Homo sapiens: one gene and its partner. The protein of the gene in region 2 binds, or shares a complex with, the protein of the main gene of each other region. Each region holds a gene or a part of one and is shown on either strand. Other genes may lie near its edges. The genes, in order: RHOA and ANLN.

Region 1 (12,354 bases), on a different chromosome or scaffold from region 2:
AAACCAAAACCAAAATTAAAACCCAAAAAAACCCTCCAATTTCACAAGAGCTTTGTTCCAGTCTTGCCAGAGGGCTTTTAGGACAGAAATGGGGAAGCACTGTTCTCACCATCAATGACAATAAAATAAAACAACTGTGGCAGGCTATTTTATGTTAAAGTAAAAAAAAATCTTTTGGCCGGGCACAGTGGCTCATGCCTGTAATCCCAGCACTTTGGGAGGCCGAGACGGGCAGATCACAAGATCAGGAGATCGAGACCATCCTGGCTAACACGGTGAAACCCCGTCTCTACTAAAAATACAAAAAATTAGCCAGTCTGGTGGTGGACACCTGTAGTCCCAGCTACTTGGGAGGATGAGGCAGGAGAACAGCGTGAACCCAGGAGGCAGAGCTTGAACTAGTAATCTAATACTGGGACATCTGATTAAATACTTTGACAGAATTTTTGTCAAAGTCCAAGCATACAAAGAAGTTCATCTGAGCATTATCTATATGGCAATGAACTAAACTTCAAATATACGTAAACTTGAAAAGAGCACATATGGCTGGGCAAGGTGGCTCACGCCTGTAATCCCAGCACTTTGGGAGGCTGAGGCAGGTGGATCATCTGAGGTCAGGAGCTTGAGACCAGCCTGGCCAACATGGCAAAATTGCATCTTTACAAAATACAAGTATTAGCCAGGCATGGCGGCGTGCGCCTGTAATCCCAGCTACTCTACTCTGGAGGCTGAGGCAAAAGAATTGCTTGAACCCGGGAGGTGGAGGTTGCAGCGAGCTGAGATTGTACCACTGCACTCCAGCCTGGGCGACAGAGCGAGACTCTGTCTCAAACAACAAAACAAAACAAAAAAAAAACACATATGCTAAGGACACCATGTCAAATACATATGAATGTAAACAAAGTCTGGATGAGTAGCAGTTAAAAATGAAAAAACAGCCAATCACCTGCGGTCAGGAGTTCATGACCAGCCTGGCCAACGTAGTGAAACCCCATTTCTACTAAAAATACAAAAATCAGCCAGGTGTGGTGGCATATTCCCGTAATCCCAGCTACTGGGGAGGCTGAGGCAGGAGAATCCTTTAAACCTGGGGGAAGGCTGGGCACAGTGGCTCACTCCTGTAATCCCAGCACTTTGGGAGGCTGAGGTGGGTGGATCACCCGAGGTCAGAAGTTTGAGACCAGCCTGGTGAAACCCCATCTCTACTAAACGAAAAATGAGCTCAGCATGGTGGCAACATGCCTGTAATCCCTGCTATTTGGGAGGCTGAGGCAGGAGAATCACTTGAACCTGGGAGGCAGAGGTTGCAGTGAGCCAAGACCGAGCCACTGCACTCTAGCCTGGGCAACAGAATGAGACTCCGTCTCCAAAAAAAAAAAAAGAACAAACTTGGACTAAGATGGCAGGATGAGAATGGATTCTTCTTTCCAACATTTTTGTTATATGGTATACTGAAGAGGCAAAAAGCTCTAATTCTCTACATGCTCCATAAATATTCTAACATGGAAAATGGCATCAGTTGTTATGAAAAGTATACTCACCTGCTTTCCATCCACCTCGATATCTGCCACATAGTTCTCAAACACTGTGGGCACATACACCTCTGGGAACTGGTCCTTGCTGAAGACTATGAGCAAGCATGTCTTTCCACAGGCTCCATCACCAACAATCACCAGTTTCTTCCGGATGGCAGCCATTGCTGAAACACAAAACACAGATATTACCTGCAATGCACAAGAAGTCATAGGTAGCTTACAGGATGACACATGCTTTGGTAACCATGGGGCATAAACCTCTATTAGCATACTCAAATTCAAACTTCTAGTACGCCGATCCACCTGGCACCAAAAGGTTATACATTAAAAACTCGTAACTAACATTATACTTAATGGTAAAAGACTGAAAAAAAGGTCTGCCCCCTAAGATCAGGAACAAGACAAGAATGTCTGTTCTTGCCACTTCTTTTTTTTTTTGAGACGGAGTCTCACTCTGTCGCCCAGGCTGGAGTGCACTGGCCCAATCTCAGTTCACTGCAACCTCCAGCCTCCCGGGTTCAAGCAATTCTCCTGCCTCAGACTCCCAAGTAGCTGGGATTACAGGCACGTACCACCACATCCAGCTAATTTTTGATAGAGATGGGGTTTCACCTTGTTGGCCAGGCTGGTCTTGAACTCCTGACCTCAGGTGATCCACCTGCCTCAGCCTCCCAAAGTGCTGGGATTACAGGCGTGAGCCACCACGCCTGGCCTGTTCTTGCTACTTCTATCCAGCAGGATACTGGAGGTCCTAGCCAGGGCAATAAGGTAAGAAAATGAAATAAAAGACATCCAAATTGGAAAGGAAGAAGTAAAACTATCTCAATTCACACATGAGATGATTTTGTAATGTGGGAAATCCTAAAGAAAACTTTTAGAATAAACAAGTTCAGTAAGGTTGCAGGATACAATATTAACATTAAAAAATCAATTGAGCCAGGCGCAGTGGCTCACGCCTATAATCCCAGCACTTTGGGAGGCCGAGGCGGGTGGATCACGAGGTCAGGAGATCGAGACCATCCTGGCTAACACGGAGAAACCCCATCTCTACTAAAAATACAAATAACTAGCCGGGCATGGTGGCAGGCACCTGTAGTCCCAGCTACTTGGGAGGCTGAGGCAGGAGAATGGCGTGAACCCAGGAGACAGAGCTTGCAGTGAGCCAAGATCGGGCCACTGCACACCAGCCTGGGGGACAGAGTAAGACTCCATCTCACAAAAAAAAAAAAAAAAAAAAAGGAAACAATTTGTCAAGCAGGGTAAAAACAATGAAAGGACTGATGAAAGGGAGTACCCAAGGGAGGAAAGAACCAAAAAAGTCATCGGCAGGTTGTTTGGGTAGACATTCTGCAATCTTTCTAAGTTTGGATATTCCTTCTTTTACCAATCTAGATTTGTTTGTAAAGAAACAGCATTCTTGGCTGGGCGCGGTGGCTCACGCCTATAATCCCAGCATTTTGGGAGGCCGAGGCAGGCAGATCACCTGAGGTCAGGAGTTTGAGACCAGCCTGGCCAACATGGAGAAACCCCATCTCTACCAAAAATACAAAATTAGCCAGGCGTGGTGGCACATGCCTATAATCCTAGCTACACAGGAGCAAGAGGCAGGAGAATCGCTTGAACCCGGGAGGCAGAGGTTGTGGTGAGCCGAGATCATGCCATTGCACTCCAGCCTGGGCAACAAGAGCGAAACTCCGTCTCAAAAAAGAAAAATCAATTGAGGCCGAGCACAGTGGTTCATGTCTGTAATCCCAACACTTTGGGAGACTGAAGCAGGAGGAATGCTCAGGCCCAGGAGTTAAGAGACCAGCCCTGACAACATAGTGAGACACTGAGAAAGGAAGGACGGACGGAAGCATGAGAGGGGAGGGGAGAAAGAAAAGGGCCGGGCGCAGTGGCTCACGCCTATAATCCCAGCAATCTGGGAGGCCGAAACAGGTGGACTGCTTGAGAGTCCAGGAGTTCAAGACGAGCCTGGGAAACATAGTGAAACCCTGTCTCTACTAAAAATACAAAAAATTAGCCAGGAGCGGTGGTGCATGCTAATCACAGTTACTTGGGAGGCTCAGGTGGGATAATCCCCTGAGCCCTGGAGGTGGAAGCTGCAGTGAGCTGAGATTGCATCACTACACTCCAGCCTGGGGAACCCCAGTGAGACACTGTCTCTAAAAAAAGAAGGAAAAGAAAAAAAAAAAAATCAGCCAGTTGTGGTAGCATGCACCTGTAGTCCCAGCTACCAAGGAGGCTGAGGTGGGAGGATTGCTTGAGCCCAGGAGGTGGAGGATGTGGTGAGCTATGATTGCATCACTGCACTCCAGCCTGGGTGACAGAGTGGAACCTTGTCTCAAACTCTTATGACTCAACTACAAAAAAGCAGCTTAGGTTGGTGGTCTGGCTCAGGATCTCTTGCAAGGTTGAAATCATAAAGAACTCTTTTTGGGCTGGGCACGGTAGCTCACACCTGTAATCCCAGCACTTTGGGAGGCTGAGGCAAGCAGAACACTTGAGGTCAGGAGTTCGAGACCAGCCTGACCAACCCAGCAAAACCCCGTTTCTACAAAAAATTCAAAACTTAGCCGGGTGTGGTGGTGGGCACCTGTAATCCCAGTTACTCGGGAGACTGAGGCAGGAGAATCGCTTGAACCCAGGAGGCAGAAGTTGCAGTGAGCCCAGATTGTACCACTGCACTCCAGCCTGGGCAACAGAGCACTCCAGCCTGGGCAACAGAGTGAAACTGTGTCTTAAAAAAAAAAAAAAAAAAAAAGAGAGAACTCCTTCTGACATGAAGTACGCTATTTATCTATCCATCTATCTTTTTTTTTTTTTTTTTTTTTTTTGAGATGAGGTCTCACTCTGTCACCCAGGCTGGAATGCAGTGGCGTGATCTTGGCTCAATGCAATCTCCACCTCCGAGGCTCAAGTGATCCTCCCACTTCAAATTCCCCAGCAGCTGGGACCACAGGCATGCGCCACCACGCCCAGCTAATTTTTGTATTTTTGGCAGAGACAGGGTTTTGCCATGTTTCCCAGGCTGGTCTCCAACTCCTGAGCTCAAGTGATCTACTCGCCTCGGCCTCCCACAGTGCTGAGGGATTACAGGCGTGAGCCACTGCCCATCTATCTACGCATCTATCCAATCTATGTACCTATCTAACCTATCTATGTGTTTCTCTATTATGTAGTTATTTTCAGAAAGGGTCTCATTCTGTCACCAAGGCTGGAATGCAGTGGTGCAATATTGGCTCACTGCAGCCTCTGCCTCCCAGGCTCAACTCAAGCGATCCTCCCACCTCAACCTCTCCAGTAGCTGGGACTACCAGGCTCCTGCCACCACAGCTGACTAATTTTTATACAGATAGCGTTTCACTATATTACCCAGGCTGGTCTCAAACTCCTGGGCTCATGCAATCCTCCCGATTCAGCCTCCCAAAGTGCTGGGATTACAAGCATAAGCCACCTCCCCAGGCCTAAATACAGTATATAGAAAAAATTAAAAAATAAAGAACTCTTACAATTCAATAATAAAAAGACAAATAATCTAATCCAATTAAAAAATGAGCAAAGGATGTGAGTAGGTATGACCCTGCAATTCTATTCCTAGGTATATATCTAAGAGAAACAAAAACATATGTCCACATAACAACTTGTACCTCTACATGAATATTCATAGCAGGATTATTCATAATATATTGTCAAAAAATGTAAAGAACCCAAATATCCAACAACTGATGAATATAATATATCCATACAATGGAATGGAATATTATTCAGCGATAAAGGATAAAGTACTGATATATGCTATAGTATGGATAGATCTTGGAAATGTTATATAAGTGAAAGAACCCAGTCACAAAAACCAACATGCATGATTCCATTTATATAAAATTGTCCAGAATAAACAAATTCAGAAAGAGAAAATAGACTGGTAGTTGCCTAGGGCAGGGACTTGGGGGTGGAGAGAAATGGAAAATGACTAATGGAATACTGGAGTTTCTCAGGTAAAAAGATTTTTCCAAAATTATTGTGGTGATGGCTGCACAACTCTATGAATATACTATAAACTATTGATTATAGTATATATAATTCACACATTTTATTTATTTTGAGACAGGGTCTCACTCTGTTGCCCAGGCTGGAGTATAGTGGTGCGATCTCCACTCACTGCAACCTTAGCCTCCCCAGGCTCAAGTGAACCTCCAATCTCAGTCTCCCAAGTAGCTGGAACTAAAGGTGCATGCCACCACACCCGGCTAATTTTTTGTATTTTTAGTAGTGACCGGGTTTCACCACGTTGCCCCAGCTGCTCTCAAACTCCTGAGGTCAAGCGATCCTCCTGCCTGTCTCTCCCAGTGTGTTGGGATTACAGGCGTGAGCCACCGCACCCAGCCCACAGTATATATAATTCACACTTTAAAAAGGTGAATTGTAAGATATGTGGATTATATTTCAATAAAGCTGTTACCACCACTCTCGCCCCCAGTGGGGGGAAAAAAGAGAGAAATCTGCAGATTCCTTCCATCTGGCAGACAGTGATGGTCAACCATCCCAATTCCCGCCCTTCCCTCCTAGACCATACTTCGATTTTTAGCTATGTACTTTGTTGTAGACTACACTTCCTAGCTTCCCTTGGAGACATGGCCATGTACCATGAGATGTGAGAATCAGCAGTATGTTGTGGGACTTCCAGAAAGTCTTTCTTAAAGGGAAGTCTTTATTATCCTCCTCCTTTCCTGCTGCTTAAATCTAAAGTAAGGGCTGGTTTCTAAGCAGCCATCCTGGTATGTGAGAATGAATGCCATACCGTGGGGCTGGAAGAACCAAAAGGTAAAAAGGAGCCTGGATCTCAGGTGATCTTGGGAGCCACCATCTCAGCCCCAAGACTGCCTACCTTCCATGTTTCTTCCATATGAATGAGAAATAAATGACTGTCTTATTTAAGGTGGTATTTTTCAAGTCTCTGTTACCTATAGTCAAACTAATCCTAAATTATATACACTCAGCTGGGCATGGTGATTCACGCCTGTAATCCCAGCACACTGGGAGGCCGAGGCGGGCAGATCACGAGGTCAGGAGTTTGAGACCAGCCTGGCCAACATATGAAACCCCATCTCTATTAAAAATATTAAAATTACCCAGGCGTGGTGGGGTGAGGCAAGAGAATCGCTTGAACCTGGGAGGTGGAGGTTGCAGTGAGCCAAGATCATGCCACTGCACTCCAGCCTGGGTGACAGAGACTCTTGTCTCAAAAATAATAATAATAATAATAATAATAATAATAATAATAATAATAATAAATACTCATTATCAAAACTATATTGTCTAAAGGGTATGTTCCCCAACCAGAATGGATAAGACAATCCACAGGGGTACCAGAAGAAAACTCAGAGGGCAAACAACGACAAAAATAAACAATGAAAACAAAACAAAAAAACTCAGAGGGCTGACAGTGCTGCCATTACTCATTTGTGAATTCTCAGGACAATATTACATACAGCAGTGAATACGTGTGTGTGTATATATATAGATACAGATATTATAGAATTTTATCCAAATCTACAAAATCTAGTAACTTTTTTTTTTTTTGCAAAAAGGGAGTAAATTGAAGATACTACTAATCATGAAAGCACAATAAGAAGCATATCGATGATAGGGAAATGTGCTCAATGCATATCTTCAAACAAGAGCATGCAGTCAAGGCTAGGAGTAATGGCTCATGCCTGTAATGCCAGCACTTTGGGAGGCTGAGGTAGGCGGATCACTTGAGGTCCAGAGTTCAAGACCAGCCTGGCCAACATTGTGAAACCCCGTCTCTACAAAAAATATAAAAATAAGTTGGACGTAGTGGCATGTACCCATAATCCCGGCTACTCGAGAGGCTGAGGCAGGAGAATCTCCTGAACTCAGGAGGCAGAGGCTGCAGTAAGCCGATATCTCGCCATTGCATTCCAGCCTGGGAAACAAGAGAAAAACCCCGTCTCAAAAAAAAAAAAAAAGTTAGCTGGGTTGGTGGCAGGCACCTGTAACCCCTGAAAGGCTACTCAGGATGCTGAGGCATGAGAATCACTTGAATTAGGCAGGCGGAGGTTGCAGTGAGCTGAGAACGCGCCACTGCACTCCAGCCTGGGCAACACAGTGAGACTCTGTCAAAAAAAAAAAAGGATTGGCATGGTGGCTCACGCCTGTAATCCCAGCACTTTGGGAGGCCGAGGCCTGTGGATCACGATGTCAGGAGTTCGAGACCAGCCTGACCAACATGGTGAAACCCCATCTCTACTAAAAATAGAAAAATTAGCCGGGCATGGTGGTCCGCACCTGTAATCTCAGCTACTCAGGAGGCTGAGGCAGGAGAATCACTTGAACCCGGGAGGAGGAAGTTGCAGTGAGCTGAGATCGTGCCACTGCACTCCAGTTTAGGCAACAAGAGCGAAAATTCGTCTCAAAAAAAAAAAAGACAGAGAGTGAAGTTCCCCAGTTAGAGTCAAGTGTGGCAACTCATGCCTGTAATCCCATCTACTCAGGAGGCTGAGGTGGGAAGACAGCTAGAGTCCAGAGTTTGAGACCAGCTTGGGCAAAATAGCAAGACCCTATCTCATAAAAATAAAAAAATATTGGCCGGGCATGGTGGCTCACACCTGTAATCCCAGCACTTTGGGAGGCTGAGGTGGGCAGATCACGAGGTAAGGAGATCGAGACCATCCTGGCTAACATAGTGAAATCCCGTCTCTACTAAAAATACAAAAAATTAGCCAGGCGTCGTGAAGGGCGCCTGTAGTTCCAGCTACTCAGGAGGCTGAGGCATGAGAATGGGGTGAACCCAGGAGGTGGAGCTTGCAGTGAGCTAAGATCGTGCCACTGCACTCCAGCCTGGGTGACAGAGAGAGACTCCGTCTCAAAAATAAATAAATAAATAAAATAAAAAAATAGACACTGGGCGTGGTGGCTCACACCTGTAATCCCAGCACTTTGGGAAGCCAAGGCAGGCAAATTGCTTGAGCCTAAGAGTTGGAGACCATCCTAAACAACACAGTGAAACCCCATCTCTACCCAAAATACAAAAAATTAGCTGGCTGTGGTGGTGCGCATCTGTGGTCACAGCTACTCAGGAGGCTAAGATGGGAGGATCACTTGAGTACAGGAGGCAGAGGTTGCAGTGAGCTGAAATCATGCCACTACACTCCAGCCTGAGTGACACAGTAAGACCCTGTCTCACCAAATAAAGATTTAATAAACTTTACATCTCTCATAAGGCCTAATCTGCATGGGCTTTTGCCCAAAGTCAAACAACCAGGACCCTATGGGATGCAAAGAAACGTCAACAGGAATTCCCCAGTTCAAGAAAAGGCTGCTTTGGCCGAGTGTGCTGGGGTTCATGCCTGCAATCCCAGTACTTTGAGAGGTGGGTGGATCACCTGAGGTCAGGAGTTCGAGACAAGCCTGACCAACATGGTGTAACCCCATATCCACTAAAAATACAAAAATTAGGTGGGCGTGGTGGTGGGCACCTGTAATCCCAACTACTGAGATGCTGAGGCAGGAGAATCACTTGAACACAGGAGGCAAAGGTTGCAGTGAGCCGAGTTAGCGCCATTGCACTCCAGCCTGGGCGACAAGAGCAAAACTCCATCGTATCAGAAAAAAAAAAAGAAAAAGAAAAAGAAAAGGCTGCCACCTTTGCGTAGCACCCTACCTAGAAGACATTCAATTCTTGAGAAATAATCTCTTTCGGCCAGGTGTGGTGGCTCACGCCTGTAATTCCAGCACTTTGGGAGGCCGAGGCGGGCAGATCACGAGGTCAGGAGATCGAGACCATCCCGGCTAACATTTCTACTAAAAATACAAAAAATTAGCCGGGCATGGTGGCAGGCGCCTGTAGTCCCAGCTACTCGGGAGGCTGAGGCAGGAGAATGGCGTGAACCCGGAAGGTGGAGCTTGCAGTGAGCTGAGATCACACCACTGCACTCCAGCCTGGTCTATAGAGCGAGAATCCATCTCAAAAAAAAAAAAAAAGAGCTATCTTTGCTTTGTTTATAGTTCAACATGCCCACAATATTTGTTCCAGTATTGACTTAAATCTTCTGTTATGGTTTGAAAAGTTTCCTTATAGATGGGGAATAAATCATTGCCTGTCCTTGGGCCCTCTCCAGCCCCACCTTCCCCTCTGCACTTTCAGCCTGCACTCCATTCCTTCCGGGTGCTCTGGTGTGTCTGAGATTACTGCATGTGTCTTCTATTCTGTTTGTGCCTTCCCTTCCTAGAATGTCCAGACTCTGTCTCCACCTTTGCTTATAGGGAGGGAATTCACGTTTAAAGACCCTAGTCCAGCCAGGCACGGTGGCTCACGCCCATAATCCCAGCACTTTGGGAGGCTGAGGTAGGCGGATCACTTGAGGTCAGGAGTTCGAGACCAGCCTGGCAAACATGGCAAAACCCCGTCTCTACTGAAAATACAAAAATTAGCCGGGCATGGTGGCATCTGCCTGTAATCCCAGCTACTTGGAAGGCTGAGGCACGAGAATCACTTGAACCTGGGAGGTGGAGGTTGCAGTGAGCCGAGATTGCACTACTGCATTACAGCCTGGGCGGCAGAGTGAGACTGTGTCTCAGAAAAAAGAAAGAAAAGAAAAAGAAAAATATCTGATAAAGAACATTTGGCCCAGAAAAAGAATAAAATCATTTAGCCACTAATGGTGACAAAGACAAAAATTACAAGTGATTATCGGACAAAATGAAAGCCTAAGTGATTTCTGGGATACTGGGAGTGCGGCAATACACAGAAGTTGAGAAGTAAAAAGTACAAGCACAGAAAATCAAACTTGCTGTTTTCTCCTTGAAAAACGCAGGAGAAATTTTGCAGAATTATCTCTCCTTTCCACTTTGCTATAATGCAGCATTCTTTACAAGTACATGGTTTGTCAAGAAAGGAAATCACGCTTAGCTCTCCCAGACGTGTCATTTTCCAGGCTAGGTTTAGTCTCAGAAATAACTTATAAGTTTGGAGTAGAGGTTTATTTAACCAAAAGTCAGTTATATCTAATTAAGTCACCAGTAACAATACACAAATAACAGTATTTCTTTTACAACTTTTAATTTTTTTTTTTTGAGACAGGGTCTCACTGTCATCCAGGCTGGAGTGAGGTGGTGTTATCATGGCTTACCACAACCTTGACCTCCCAGGCTCAGGTAATCCTCCCACTTCAGTCTCCCAAGTAGCTAGGAGTACAGGCACACACACCACGCCCAGCTAATTTTTGTGTTTTTTTTGTAAAGATGGAGTTTCACCATGTTGCCCAGGATGGTCTTAAACTCCTGGGCTCAAGTGATGCCCCCACTTTCTAAAAATTTAATTATCTTGGCTGGGTGCAGTGGCTCACGCCTGTAATCCAAGTACTTTGGGAGGCTCAGATGGGCAGATCACTTGAGGTCAGGAGTTCGAAACCAGCAGCCTGGCCAACATGGTGAAACCATTCTCTACTATGAACACAAAAATTAGCCTAGCGTGGTGGCAGGCACCTGTAATCCCAGCTACTCGGGAGGCTGAGGCAGGAGAATTGTTTGAACCTGGGAGGCGGAGGTTGCAGTGAGCTGAGATGGCACCACTGCACTCCAGTCTGGGTGACAGCAAGACTGTCTCGGGGGAAAAACAAATTTAATTATCTTTTATGTAGAGACAGGGTCTTGCTGTGTTGCCCTGGCTAGTCTCAAACTCCTAGCCTCAAGTGATTCTCCCGTGTTGGCTCCCTAAGTGTTGGGACTACAGGGGTGAGCCACTGCGCCTGGTCCATTGCCCCCCTACCTTTTTTTTTTTTTTTCTGAGACAGAGTCTTACTCTGTCGCCCAGGCTGGAGTGCAGTGGCGCGATCTTGGCTCACTGCAACCTCCGCCTCCCAGGTTCAAGCAATTCTCCTGCCTCAGCCTCCCAAATAGCTGGGAGGCGTCTGCCACCACGCCTGGCTAATTTTTTTATTTTTAGTAGAGACGGGGTTTTACCATGTTGACCAGGCTGGTCTCAAACTCCTGACCTCAGGTGATCCACTTGCCTCGGCCTCCCAAAGTGCTAGGATTACAGCAATGAGCCACCGCACCCAGCCCCCATTGCCCATTTTTAAACTCAGTTGTTTTTTTTATTTTTTTGATGATGCCCTTTGGGGCACAACGTTTTTTATTTTGTTGAAGTCAAATTTATCTATTTTTCCCTTTGGTTACTGATGGTTTGGTGGCATATCTAAAATACCACAGCCAAATTCAAGGTCGTAAAAAAAATATATATGCTTCTTTCTATAGTTTTAAGTCTTACACTTTAGGCCTTTGATTCATTTTGAGTTAATTTTCATACATGATATGAGGTAAGGGGTCCAACTTCATTCTTTTTCATTTGGAAATCTAGTCACCTCAGCATTATTTACTGAAAAGACTATTTTCCCCCCAACTGGATGGTCCTGGCACACTTGAGAAATCAACTAATTAGCAACTGAGGGTTTACTTTGGATTAATCCTATTCCATTGGTCTATATTGTCCACCTTTATACTAGTACCACAGTCTTGATTACTGTTGCTTTGCAGTAAGTTTTAAAATCTGGAGGTGTGAGTCCTCCAGCTTTGTTTTTTTCCAAGATTATTTTGGTTATTCTGGGTCCCCTGAATTTTGGTATGTATTTTAGTAACAGTTTGTCAATTTCTGCAAAAAAGCCAGCTGGAATTTTGATAGGAATTACACTGAATCTACAGATCGATTTGGGGAGTACTGTCATCTTTACAATGTTAAGTCTTCTGACATATGAACATGGACGCCTTTCCATTTATTTAGGTCATCTTTCATTTT
Region 2 (12,308 bases):
TTGTCCTAATACCCTAAACCTCTGAATATGTTGCCTTACAGAGCAAAAGAGACTTTACTGATGTGATTAAGAATCTTTAGATGGAGATAATCCTGAATTATCTGGTCAGGCCCAACATAATCACAAAGGTCCTTATGATGGAAAACACAGAGGCAGGAAGATCAGAGTCAGGGAAAATATGACCATGGAAGCAGAGGTCAGAGTAATGTGATTTTTGGCTTTGAAGATGGGGGAACAGGACAAGCCAAGAAATACAGATGGCCTTTAGAAACAAGAAAAGTTAGGAAACAGATTCTCCCCTACAGCCTCCAGAAGAAACACAATTCCACTGACATGTTGATTTTAACACAGTAAAATCCATTTCAGATTTCAGAGTGAGACCCTGTCTCTAAAGAACTGTAAAATAATGAATATGTTATTTTAGGCCACTAAATTTGTGATAACTTGTTACAGCAGCAAAACTAATAGAGCCACTAAAATCTGGGGTGGTGGTAAGCAGCAAGAGATAAATAACATATTAGTCCTTTGAAAACATAAAACACTTCCTAAGAGGAAAGAAAAACAAAATAATCTTATGTTTTATTTAACTAAATATTAACATATAATAAAATGGTTTTAAATTGAAATCTTAGCCATTCCATAAAGTCATGAATACTCCTTTCTACTCCAAATCAACTGATGTTCCTATTTTTAAGTCAATTTTAGTAAAGCTCAAACACAAGACCCTGTAAAACAATTCATTTTCTTTCAAATGCACACAACTAAAGGAGGTATGCAGATTATTATTACTGCCTTGCATACTCAGATACAGTAGTTAGTGCAGGCTGAAAAATTAAATTCCATTTGACTCTTTTTAATTCCTTAAAATACAGTAACAATTTTTTAAAAATCTGAGTATGTAAAAGAAATATGAGCTAAATTTGAAAGAAGGCACACTCTCTACTCTTCTTAAGAATGATTTCTAATTTAAAGTTCATTGAAAAAAGTGACACTAAATTGAAATGCTCTAATCACTGAAAAAATAATTTATGAACCAAATGGCTTCCAAAATACAAGACCTTCACCCGCTAAATAAAAGTCCTTCAACAAATTCAAGAATAAGCATATTGTTTCACAAATCCATATATGTCCGATAATTTCCCCCCATGATACAATATGAGAACTAAAAATAAAATACTAATCCTCCCAACCAACTGAACAGATCCCCTCTTGATGAAGGGGACCCCAGAGAAACCTTAAAAACCGAGTTCTCAGCCATGATGGAACAGGAGGCCGCATGCACCTTGTTATACCCCTCCTTTTGCTGTTTAAACACAATAACTGATGAGCATTAATGTTAAATAGAGATCATAAGACTGACAGAAGACTCTTTGTAGCAATAAGATATCAAATTATAAACAGGATCAAGCCTAGGCAACAAAGCAAGATCCTGTCTCTGCAAAACATACAAAAGTTAGCCAGGCATGGTGGGGCACATCTGTAGTCCCAGCTACCTGGGGGGTGGGGTGGCTGAAGCAAAAGGATTACTTCAGCCCAGGAGTTCAAGGCTGCAGTGAGCTGTGATCGCTACTGCACTCCAGCCTGGGTAACAGAGTGAGACCCTGTCTGTAAACAAATAACTAGGACCTAAGGCCATGCCAGGCAAGGGTTAAGTCACAAACTCCCTACACTTAAAAAATAAACTATCTTCTAACTGCCAAAGTTTTTCTTTTACTCTAGTAGCTGAACAAGCACTGACCTTGAGATAAGCAATAAATATTAAAACAATTGCAGCTCATCTTCCATCAGACACTGACTAACCCTCCTGCTCCACAAGCTACAGCTACAGCTTTAATTGGACAAGAGATTGATTTCAATAAATCTATCTCAGTAAGAAGACCACCAACCATGAACTGATTCTGGCCAGTTTACAGAGGCTGCTCACTTGAATGCCTTCATGTCCCCACCTCACCTTTTGACATATAGGGCCCAACTGTAATGTATTTCCACGTTAAGTCTTCATCCCAAAGTGAACATGGGATGCATGTAACTGCACGTTTGTTCAGTACCCACCCATCAGGACCCCTTTGTAAATACTCATAGCTCTGCCTATAACCTGTTGAATATGTATACCTGGCTAACCCTTTAGGCATAAATCCCTGTTCCAGCTTCTCCTCTCTTGAAGTGCCTGTTTCCAGTCTCTGCCCGAAGCTATTAAATATGTTTCCCAGCCTGTCAGGATGGCCACACTGTAGGCTGTAAGCCTTTATAAGAAAGTCTCTGCTGGGCACAGTGGCTCATGCTTGTAATTCCAGCACTTTGGGAGGCCAAGGCAGGCGGATCACTTGAGGCTAGGAATTTGAGACCAGCTTGGCAAACACGGTGAAACCCCATCTCTACTAAAAATACAAAAATTAGCCAGTTATGGTGGTGCATGCCTGTAGTCCCAGCTACTTGGGAGGCTGAGGCAGGTGAATCACTTGAACCTGGGAGGCAGAAGTGACACCGAGCCAAGATCGCACCATTGAGCTCCAGTCTGGGCGAGAACGAGACTCTGACTCAAAAAAAAAAACGAAAAAAGAAAAAAGAAATAATGTCTCCTTTCTAAATTAATAAATTTGTAATTTTTCAATTGCTATATCTCTCACTTCCCAGATACAACACTAGCCTAATTATATTCATTCGTGGACATGCCCACATTCCATTCTGGTCAGTTAGAACATTTGTGAGTCAGTACAGCTTCAGTTACCATGAGCAGTAGGTCACAACAAAAGAATGTGATTTTGTCATTCAAACGTATATGAATGTTCTATTGCTTACATTAGATTCAAAAATTCCCAGATTAAAAAAAAATTAAATAGATACACAAAAAAAGATCCCTAATCTGTGAAGTAAAGCTATAAACACCAAAGGTTATTAAATTAAAAGAAATTATATATCTTAAATATATAAACTCAATAGCTCAATAAATGTAAGTAGCCGTTCCTTATAATAGTATATCAGGAATTTTAAAACTCTTTTAAATACAAGGTATATTCCTTGAAATATCACACCTTTCTCAAACAGTGTAGGCATTAAAAAAAAAAAAAAACCACTGCAATAACATATTCAAGAAGTAGGATAGCCCACATGTATGAATCTCAGGTAACTGAAGCTTATAGTCCCTGAACAACTTTTGCCACATACACCCCAAAGTCATCTCTGACAAATTTTTCTAGGAGATTTTACTAATTTCCTTGCCTTCTTTAACACAGTAGACTCAATATAAATTAACTTCTTATTATTTTCAATATGCTCTAGCAGCTCTTCCCCAGGGAACTTCATTTAATTCTGGAAAATAAGAGAAATTCCACTAAAAATGGTAGTGGCATGTTTATTTGCATACTTATTTATATGCAGCCTGCAGACATAAAAGGATCTAAAGCGTCTACAATAAAATATGCTTCTGTGAAGTATTTTAATTATAGCTTTTTCTCTTTTAAGGTTTTTATAAAGAAAGTTCTGGATTGGTACACTTCACTCTGGGTTTCTTTGTAGTATTCTTGTACTGGGATGACTATCACCTGTGAGTAGAGCTTCAAACTCTTGACGTTATGAGTAGTGAGTTTATGGTTTTGTCACCTGGGCGACACTGCGAGACTCCGTCTTAAAAAAAAAAAGAGTGCCAGAACAGTATCAGCGACCACAGGGAGGAAGACCAATGCAGAACAGTCTTGTTTGAGGAAAAGAGAGTTTACCATGATTGTAACCTTTCTCAACTGGAGTTACCAAAATAATTAAGCCCTAATACGCTGGCGTTAATATGATAGACTTATTTCCTATGTTTGTAGGGTGGCATTGAATTATCCTTGGGAGAATTGAGAAAATAGTCTCTCAATTTTCCTGTGTACCATGGTTCTGAGAGGAAACCCTGGTTGAGAGAGTCATTTTATACTGACTTTCAGTTGATAGACAACTGTACCAGTAGCTCATTTCACTGTGCAAATGTTATGAATGCTATAATTAAGCACCCAAGAGTTGGAATCAATTCAAGTAGTTCATTCATTACCTATTAAGGAAAAGACGTCTAAGCTGTTTTTCCAACTGCAAGTGATCTAACTTTTCATAATATAAACCATACATATTTCTGAGCACATCCTAAAACGATCTAAACAGGTAAAGTTTCTTTCAGTTGAGATTTGTACTACCTTCAGAATGACATTTTTAAGTAAAATGAAGTGCAATTTTCAGCCAACTTAAAAATGCTTTGTTCCTGTCTGTTACTTAGGAAGACACATAGGGCTAATGTTTTAAGGAATCGTATTCTAGTTTAGATAAAATAAATACACGCTTTTCGACCTCAGTGTAAGTGAAAGATACTTGGTGCATGACCAGCCCTATTTTAAGGCTAATACAAAAATAGGCTCTAGATTTTTCTATTAGAACCTTTAAGGAAGGTGAAAAAAATTGATGTATTTGTCCCAAGATGATTAAGAATTTGAAACAGAAAAATAGATTATGTCATGCTTGAATATAAGTAAACTCTAATTGCTGAAATCTGTAATTAATATCTCATACATAACTTATAGAATTATAATTACATCTCCCCGAAAGAATTACCACTCTTCACAGCATTTAAGTTTTTGAATCAGTGTAAACAGTTTTAGGTCCACTTTGCAACACTCAAAAACTAACAGTTTGAAATTTGCACAACAGCCTAAAGAAAGAGGAACTGTCCTGGAATAAAAGAGAGTGGACAACTGGCAACAAAACACTCCTGAATGTGACAACGCACATTCTCCACAAAAGCTAAAACTAGAGAAATCGACACAATAACCATGTAACCCATATGCAATCTCAAAGGAACAAAAGATGAAATAAGTACTGTAATGATATGCCCCAGAAACACCGAAAAGTTTATTTCTTTGCTCTAAAATCGTGAGCTGATAGTTTTGCTCGGTACACTTGCATTGTTTCAATTAAAATGGTCAGTCCCGGGTATGAACTTCTTCGTTAGTTAGCTGAACAATGGGATCTCAAGGAACTACTGGCTTTTTATGAACGAATGCAGTGGTTTCTAGCACCTGCTTATTTTAACGTTTTGCTGTCATTTCATTAGCATCTCCCCTGCGGGCTGCGTGAACTCCGCAAATCACACATCCTACTGCCTTTCCCGGCGGCAGCCGCACTGAGTCACCGGCCCCGGACCCCGCCCTGCAGGGCATTCCAGCTGCTTCCAGCAGGACCCGTTCCGCAGGCCTGCGCCTCACTCTTGCTGCGCCAGGACTGCAGAGGGACATGGTAAAAACGGGGGCTGAAAGACCTCTCGCAACAGCCTTTTAGGACAGACTCAAAGCCTTCCTCCCTGAGTTTTATCTGTAGGACCGAAACAACAAAATCTCAGAGGAACCCACCAACCACAGCAGGCCGCAGCCGCGGCGACCCCGGCCCGCACACACTGCGCACGCGCGCACACACGCGCCCTCCGCCCGGTGGGGGTTCGCCCAGAGGTTGACAGAGGAAGGTGGGTGGGGGCCTAGAGCGGTGGGTCATGGCTGGCTGCACCCGCAAACTCACTCACCTCCGTAAACGGATCCATCGCCCCAGGCGTCGGACTACGAGACGATGGAAACGGTGGTTCAAATTCAGGAAGAGAAAAGTGAGTCTCAGCTCAGTGTGTCTCCTGGAAAAAACCAGGAGTCTGAGGCGGGGGAACTCTCCCACAACCAGCTGTCCTCTCCTCTCGGCTTCCAGTGACGGACTCGGCCTCTGCAGCCGTTCAAATTTGAATTTCAGCGCCGAGCCGCGAGCATGCGCGCTGGGCGGAGCCGGGGCGCCCTCTCCCCGCCCCTGCGCTCGGTCACGTGGCCGCGCCGGGCCGGGTGGTTCCCAGGGGCGGCCCCGCCTCCTTCCCGGCCCCCTCCCAGCCCTCGCCGCGGGGTGGAGGCGGGCAGCGGGGCGCTTCCTGCTCTCCAACGGCGTCGGGTTCCTGGCTCCACCCCCAACAACCACACATTCCCCTCAGCTTTAAGGCGATTGCTTCACACCAACCGCGTTTGGGTGTTCCCGCCTTCCTTCATTCCTAAATAAAGTATTAAGGCCGGGAGTAGTGGCGCATGCTTATAATCCCAGCATTTGGGGAGGCTGAGGCTGGAGGATCGCTTGAGCCCAGGAGGTCATGGCTGCAGTGAGCTGCGATCTCACTACTGCACTCCAGCCTGGGCGGCAGAGTGAGACCCTGCCTCAAAAAAGAAAAAAAAAGGATTAAGAGCCCTTGTGTTGGCAGGACATAATCCCAGCACTGTGGGAGGCCGAGGCGGGCAGATCACGAGGTCAGGAGTTCAAGACCAGCCTTGCCAACATGGTGAAACCCCGTCTCTACTAAAAATACAAAAAAATTAGATAGGCATGGTGGCGCGTGCCTCTAATCCCAGCTACTCGGGAGGCTGAGGCAGGAGAATTGCTTGAACTGGGACCCGGGAGGTGGAGGTTGCAGTGAGCAGAGATCACACCACTGCATTCCAGCCTGGGCTACAGAGCCAGACAAAGAGCCCTTGTGTTTCAGGTGCTGCTAGCCCGTTGGCCTTCAGTAGCTTTGTTTCCTAGGTCACACCCAACTCCTAGTCCCCAAAAGGGGGACTGCAGGCCTGGCCCTCAGAAAAGCCAGTTCCGGTGGGTCCCCGACACTCTAAGCCAATGAAATAAAGCTAAAATTAACAGACTGTGTGAAGCGTTCATGCACAATTTTTTATTTTAAATTCCATCCAACTGTGTACAGTGTTAGAGCGGGAGGAATTCTGACAAGCCCTCTATCTAGTTCAATCCTTCCTTTTACTGCCGAGAGAAGGGACACCCGAAAACGTTAAAGAAACTGGTCCAAAGAAATGAAAACCCTGTTCTCAGCTCATGACCCGTTTTCCACACTAGCTAAGGCTGTGTCTCCTGCTTATTCTTTGTAGAGTACTCCAAATTGTAAGATAGGTTACATAATTTCTGTATCAGATTCATTTCTTCTATAACAAGTCTGTGCAGGTAAAGATGACAGTTCTTGATTTGTTCATCTGAAAAGTTAAGAGTGACTGTCCATGAGCTGAACAAAACAGAACTATTCCTCCCAACTGAGTGGTTTCAATATGTTTAATAATATGTCCATCTTAGCAGTCAATCAACATTACAAAAAGAATTTACTAATATTTTTAATTTGAATTTTTGTATGATAAATTGTACGTGACTGAAATCACGGCAAGAGGTAAGGGAAATATTGCTTGGGGTCAGGGCTCCACCCAGTTAGCCAAATCGGTTAACCCATGGGTTTTTTTTTTTTTTAACCTTTGTGGGGAGTCATGGACTCCTTTGGAAATATGTTAAAACTGACCCTCTACCTAGAAAAATGACCATTTAATCATAAACTATTTAACAGGATTTTGTGAAGTTCATGGACACCAGGACAAGAACTTCTGATTTAGCCTGTTTGTATTTTAGTTTACTTATCTGTGTAACAGGAATAATCATCTGCCCTGATTTCCTCAGAGTTGTTAGGAGGGGCAGATGAAAAATGGAGAGACATAATCCAAAAATATTTCATAATAAGTAATAAGACACTGTCCGAGTGTGTAGTATATGGAATTATTAATATTTAACCCAGAATGTGTTACTTATGAACAAAGGAAAAAGATACTTCCATTTTTTTCAAGTGTGACAAGAAAGGTGTGTATGTATTTGGGGCGTGTCTGTGTGTGTATGCGTGTTTTAAACAACGTTGGAAAATGAGTCATTAGAAATTTATGTAGCCGTTGTGCCTTCTGGCTATCACTTCTATGAGCCTTAGTTTCTTTGTATCTACCTCAACTAGATTCTAGTTAAGACTAAAAGAGGTAAAGCACCTAGCATAAGATAGCTACTCACAACATTTAGTGTATCTTCCCTCACCATCCCACTATGTCTTTGGTTTCTACCTTGATAATGATGATGATAGTGATAATGGCAACCATCACAATTAAATAACTCCTAAGACTGAAACACCTACTATGTGCCAGAAACTACGGTAGATATTCAAGTCTACTCTCCTAGGGTATTACAATTGTCTCCTACTATACCTCCTTTCATTCTTAACCCCCGGTAGTTCATTCTTCAGTTTCTAGGCTAGAATGACTTTTATCTTTTTAAAAATTGTGTTATATAACAAATAAAAAAATTTGAAAACAAAAAAATTATGTTATGAAATACAATAAAAATGTGAATAATAAAACATAACCATATACCAGCCACCTAGCTTAAAAAAATACAAAACATCCCACATGTAATTGAAGTCTCCTGTGTGTCCCTTCCTATTCTCATTCATCTTCCCACTCTTCCAGGGTAAAACTATCTTGATTTGATGTTTATCATTCCCATAGAAATATGTATACTTTTATCACATCTACATATATATCCATAACAATATCTAGTGTTTTATATATAAATTTTATTTGCAGAATGTAAGTCTTTCTGCAACTTTTTCTGGCCCAATAATATCTTTATGGGATTTATCCTCACTAATAACTGTAGCTGCATTTCATTCATGTTCACTGCTAAATTTTATTATACAAATATACTTGTAATTTATGTACCCATTATCCTGTTAATGGACATTTAGCTTATTTCCAGTTTTTCATTCCAAAGACCCCATGATGCCATGACTATCCTTTATATGCACATGCAAAACTTTCTCTAGAGCAATATACCTAGGAATATTATTACCAGATATTAAAAATAAACTGCTCTTCAAAATGGTCATAACAAATGATACTCCAGTCAGTAGTATATGCCCCTGGCTGCTGCTCTAGTTCCTCCCCAATATGTGGATACATTTTAAATTTTGCCATTCTTGTTTGAGTGCCTTTCTCTTATCACTAGTGAAGGTGAACATGATTTTTTATTTATTGGACTTTCAATTTTCTTTTTCTGTGATTTTCAACTTTATATCCTTGCCCATTTTTCTGTGCAATTATTTGCCTTTTTCTTATGGATTTATAGGGTTTTTGTTGGTTGTTTACTATTTTCTGGGAAAATAAACTTGGTTGGTTTTTCGGCTTGCCAATTTTTTGGTTTGTGGCTTGTCTTTTTACTTTATGATGTTTCAGATGTACAGAAATGTTTAATATAACTAATGATACACACACACACACACACACACACATACACACATACACATACACATATACCATATATATTTTCCTTTAGGATTTGTGTTTTTTATGCCTTAAGAAATCCTTCCATACCCTGAGATAATAAAGATGTTCTGCTGTACTTTCTTCTAAATATTTTAAAGTATGGCTTTTCATGCTTTTGTCTTTAAACTATCTGGATTGATCTTGTTTTTTGTATGGATAACCAGTTGTCTTAGCAGCAGTTATTAAATTGTCCATCCTTTCTCTCATTGACCTGTAATGCCACTTTTATCATATATCAACTTTTCTTTTTTTTTTTCCCGAGACAGGGTCTCGCTCTTTCGCCAAGGCTGGAGTGCAGTGGCCTGATCTCGGCTGACTACAACCTCTGCCTCCCGGGTTCAAGCGATTCTCCTGCCTCAGCCTCCCAAGTAGCTGGGACAACAGGCATATGCCACCAAATCTGGCTAATTTTTGTGTTTTTAGTAGAGTTGGGGTTTCCCCATGTTGGCCAGGCTAGTCTCGAATTCCTGGCCACAAGTGATCCACCCAACTAGACCTCCCAAAGTGCTGGGATTATAGGCATGAGCCACTGCGCCTACCCAACAGTTCTTTCTTTATCTTATTTTATTTTATTTTATTTTATTTTATTTTATTTTATTTTATTTTATTTTATTTTATTTTATTTTTTGAAATAGGGTCTTGCTCTGTCACCCAGGCTGGAGTGCAGTGGCACGATCACAGCTCACTGCAGCTTCAAATTCCTGGCCTCAAGCAATCTTCCCATCTCAGCCTTCCAAGTATCTGGGACAACAGGTGCATGCCACCACAACCCGCTACTTTTTAAAATTTTTTGTAGAGACAGGATCTCACTTTGTTGCCCAGGCTGGTCTCCAACTCCTGGCCTCAAATGATCCTCCCACCTTGGCCTTCCAAAGTGCTGGAATTACAGGTGTAAGCCACTATGTTCAGCCTCAACTTTTTATGTACACATAGGTCTATGTCGGACTCTATTCTGTTCTACTGGTCTATCTATTCCTCTCCCAATATCACACTATATTAGTTATAAATGTTGATATCTGGTAGGGCAAATTCCAATTCAACTTGGATTATTTTGCCTCATTGTTCTTCCACATGAATTTTAGGGTCAGATTCTCAAGATCCAAAAAGAAAAGAAAAGAAAATCCTCTTCTGATTTTTAATTCAAATTGCACTGAATTTATCACATAATTTGGAGAGAATTCGCATCTTTGTGACAGCAATGCTACCCATTTATGAGCATGGTATATCTTCATTATACCTGCTAAAAATGTCTATAACAAACTTACATAAAGATCTGTAAACTTTTGTTAAATTTATTCCTACGTATCTTTGTTGTTGCTGATCTTTTTAGTTTTAGTAATTTATTTATAGAGAGGGATCTTTTTCAAATGTAAATTTTGCAGTGTCAATTCCTTGTTTGGAGCTGCTCTATGTCTTTCGTTGTAATTAAAATGATATCCAATAATATCCTTATCATACCTACAAGGCCATGCATGATCTGGAATCTACCTGCCTCTCCGAATAACCTAGTATTCTCCTAACATCACAATACTTTCCTTTTTTTTTTTTTCTTTTCACTATGCTCCAGCTTCAGGCCTTTTTTCTGGTCATAAAAAAATGCCAAATTTCTTCCTGCCTCAAGGACTTTCCACTGCCTGGACACTCTTCCTCTAGATTTAGCACGTCTGCTCCTCGTTATTTGGGCCTAAGCTTGCATGTGCTACCTCCTGAAAGAAGACTTCTTTGATCAGGTGGCCACCCCCGTCTTCTCTGCCCACCAATCACTTTCCATTCTATTACTCTGACTTCTTCATCACATTTGCCACTATCTGACATTATTTTAGTTATGTGTTTATGTTTATTAGCTAGGCCTTCCTACTACAGTGTAAGCTGTGGCAGTGCAGGGACTTGTTTATAGCTGTAACCCAGCACCTTCTGGCACATGAGTGCAGTAGATACTTGTTAAATAAATGAATATAAGCATAACTCTTATTCCTATTTTAGAGATGGGAAAACTGAGATGCATAGAGGCTAAGGGATTGGCCTAAATCATCAAAAGTGTCTTCCCTACTTATTTATATAAAACACAAAACTTCCCAAGTTATTTAAATAAAACCCACAACATAATACATTAATTTAAGAATAGAACCAAGAGTCTGAAGTAGAAATAACTAGAGATTAAAGATAGCCCTGGAAAATGAGTATTTGCTCCAAGACCTGTTCTTTTAAACAAAGGAAATAATAATTATGTCTTTTGCAGATAAAATTGCTGATAAAAAGGCTGAAAAACACAAAAATTTGAAAGCAGGGACTGCAACAAAGACCCTCCAAATGCTGTATATTTACAGTTAATTTTTCAAAATACAGTCACACACATTTGTATTTTATATTTTATACTATTTTTATACTTTTTAAAATACTATTTATATTTAATTTTAAAATTTTTAGACTATTTATACTTAATTCACAAAGTAATACAATAACACAAATCTTTTTATTTTTACAGGGAGAGAAAAGGCCAAGACCTAATCATAAGGCAGTGGCAAGAAGAGCTAAACTCAAGTTCTCTACCTCAGGTTATTTGGCTGAAGGGCCACTTCTTTTACACTTTTTAAAATTATTATTATACTTTAAGTTCTGGAGTACATGTGCAGAACGTGCAGGTTTGTTACATAGGCATACACGTGCCATGGTGGTTTGCTGAACCCATCAACCTGTCATCTATATTAGGTATTTCTCCTAATGCTATCCCTCCCCTAACTCTCCACCCCCCTACAGACCCTGGTGTGTGATGTTCCCCTCCCTGTGTCCATGCATTCTCATTGTTCAACTCCCACTTATGAGTGAGAACATGCGGTGTTTGGTTTTCTGTTCCTGTGTTAGTTTGCTGAGAATGATGGTTTCCAGCTTCATCCATGTCCCTGCAAAGGACACGAACTCATCCTTTTTTATGGCTGCATAGTATTCCATGCTGCATATGTGCCACATTTTCTTTATCTAGTCTATCATTGATGGGCATTTGGGTTGGTTCCAAGTCTTTGCTATTGTGAACAGTGCCGCAGTAAACATATGTGTGCATGTGTCTTTATAGTAGAATGATTTATAATCCTTTGGATATATACCCAGTAATGGTATTGCTGGGTCAAATGGTATTTCTAG

Evidence for each region.
Region 1: the proteins of ANLN (region 2) and RHOA are in contact, whole or in part, in a crystal structure (PDB 4XOI), measured with the Homo sapiens proteins. Residues at the interface, in NP_061155.2 of Homo sapiens: Met729, Thr732, Val733, Tyr735, Gln736, Ala737, Gln739, Ala740, Cys743, Cys744, Glu748, His749, Gly750, Ser753, Glu755, Glu758, Ala759, Leu762; in NP_001300870.1 of Homo sapiens: Tyr34, Val35, Pro36, Thr37, Val38, Phe39, Glu40, Asn41, Trp58, Asp65, Tyr66, Arg68, Leu69, Pro71, Leu72, Pro75, Asp76.

The regions. Positions count from the first base shown.
Region 1 is NC_000003.12:49,373,893-49,386,246, forward strand, and holds part of RHOA (transforming protein RhoA isoform 1 precursor), read right to left. Parts: intron 1,700-12,354; 5' UTR 1,698-1,699; coding exon 1,542-1,697; intron 1-1,541. UniProt on the Homo sapiens protein: Small GTPase which cycles between an active GTP-bound and an inactive GDP-bound state.
Region 2 is NC_000007.14:36,383,276-36,395,583, reverse strand, and holds the start of ANLN (anillin), read right to left. Parts: upstream 5,723-12,308; 5' UTR 5,618-5,722; coding exon of another isoform or gene 5,558-5,617; coding exon 5,540-5,557; coding exon of another isoform or gene 5,510-5,539; exon of another isoform or gene 5,227-5,509; intron 1-5,226. UniProt on the Homo sapiens protein: Required for cytokinesis. Essential for the structural integrity of the cleavage furrow and for completion of cleavage furrow ingression. Plays a role in bleb assembly during metaphase and anaphase of mitosis.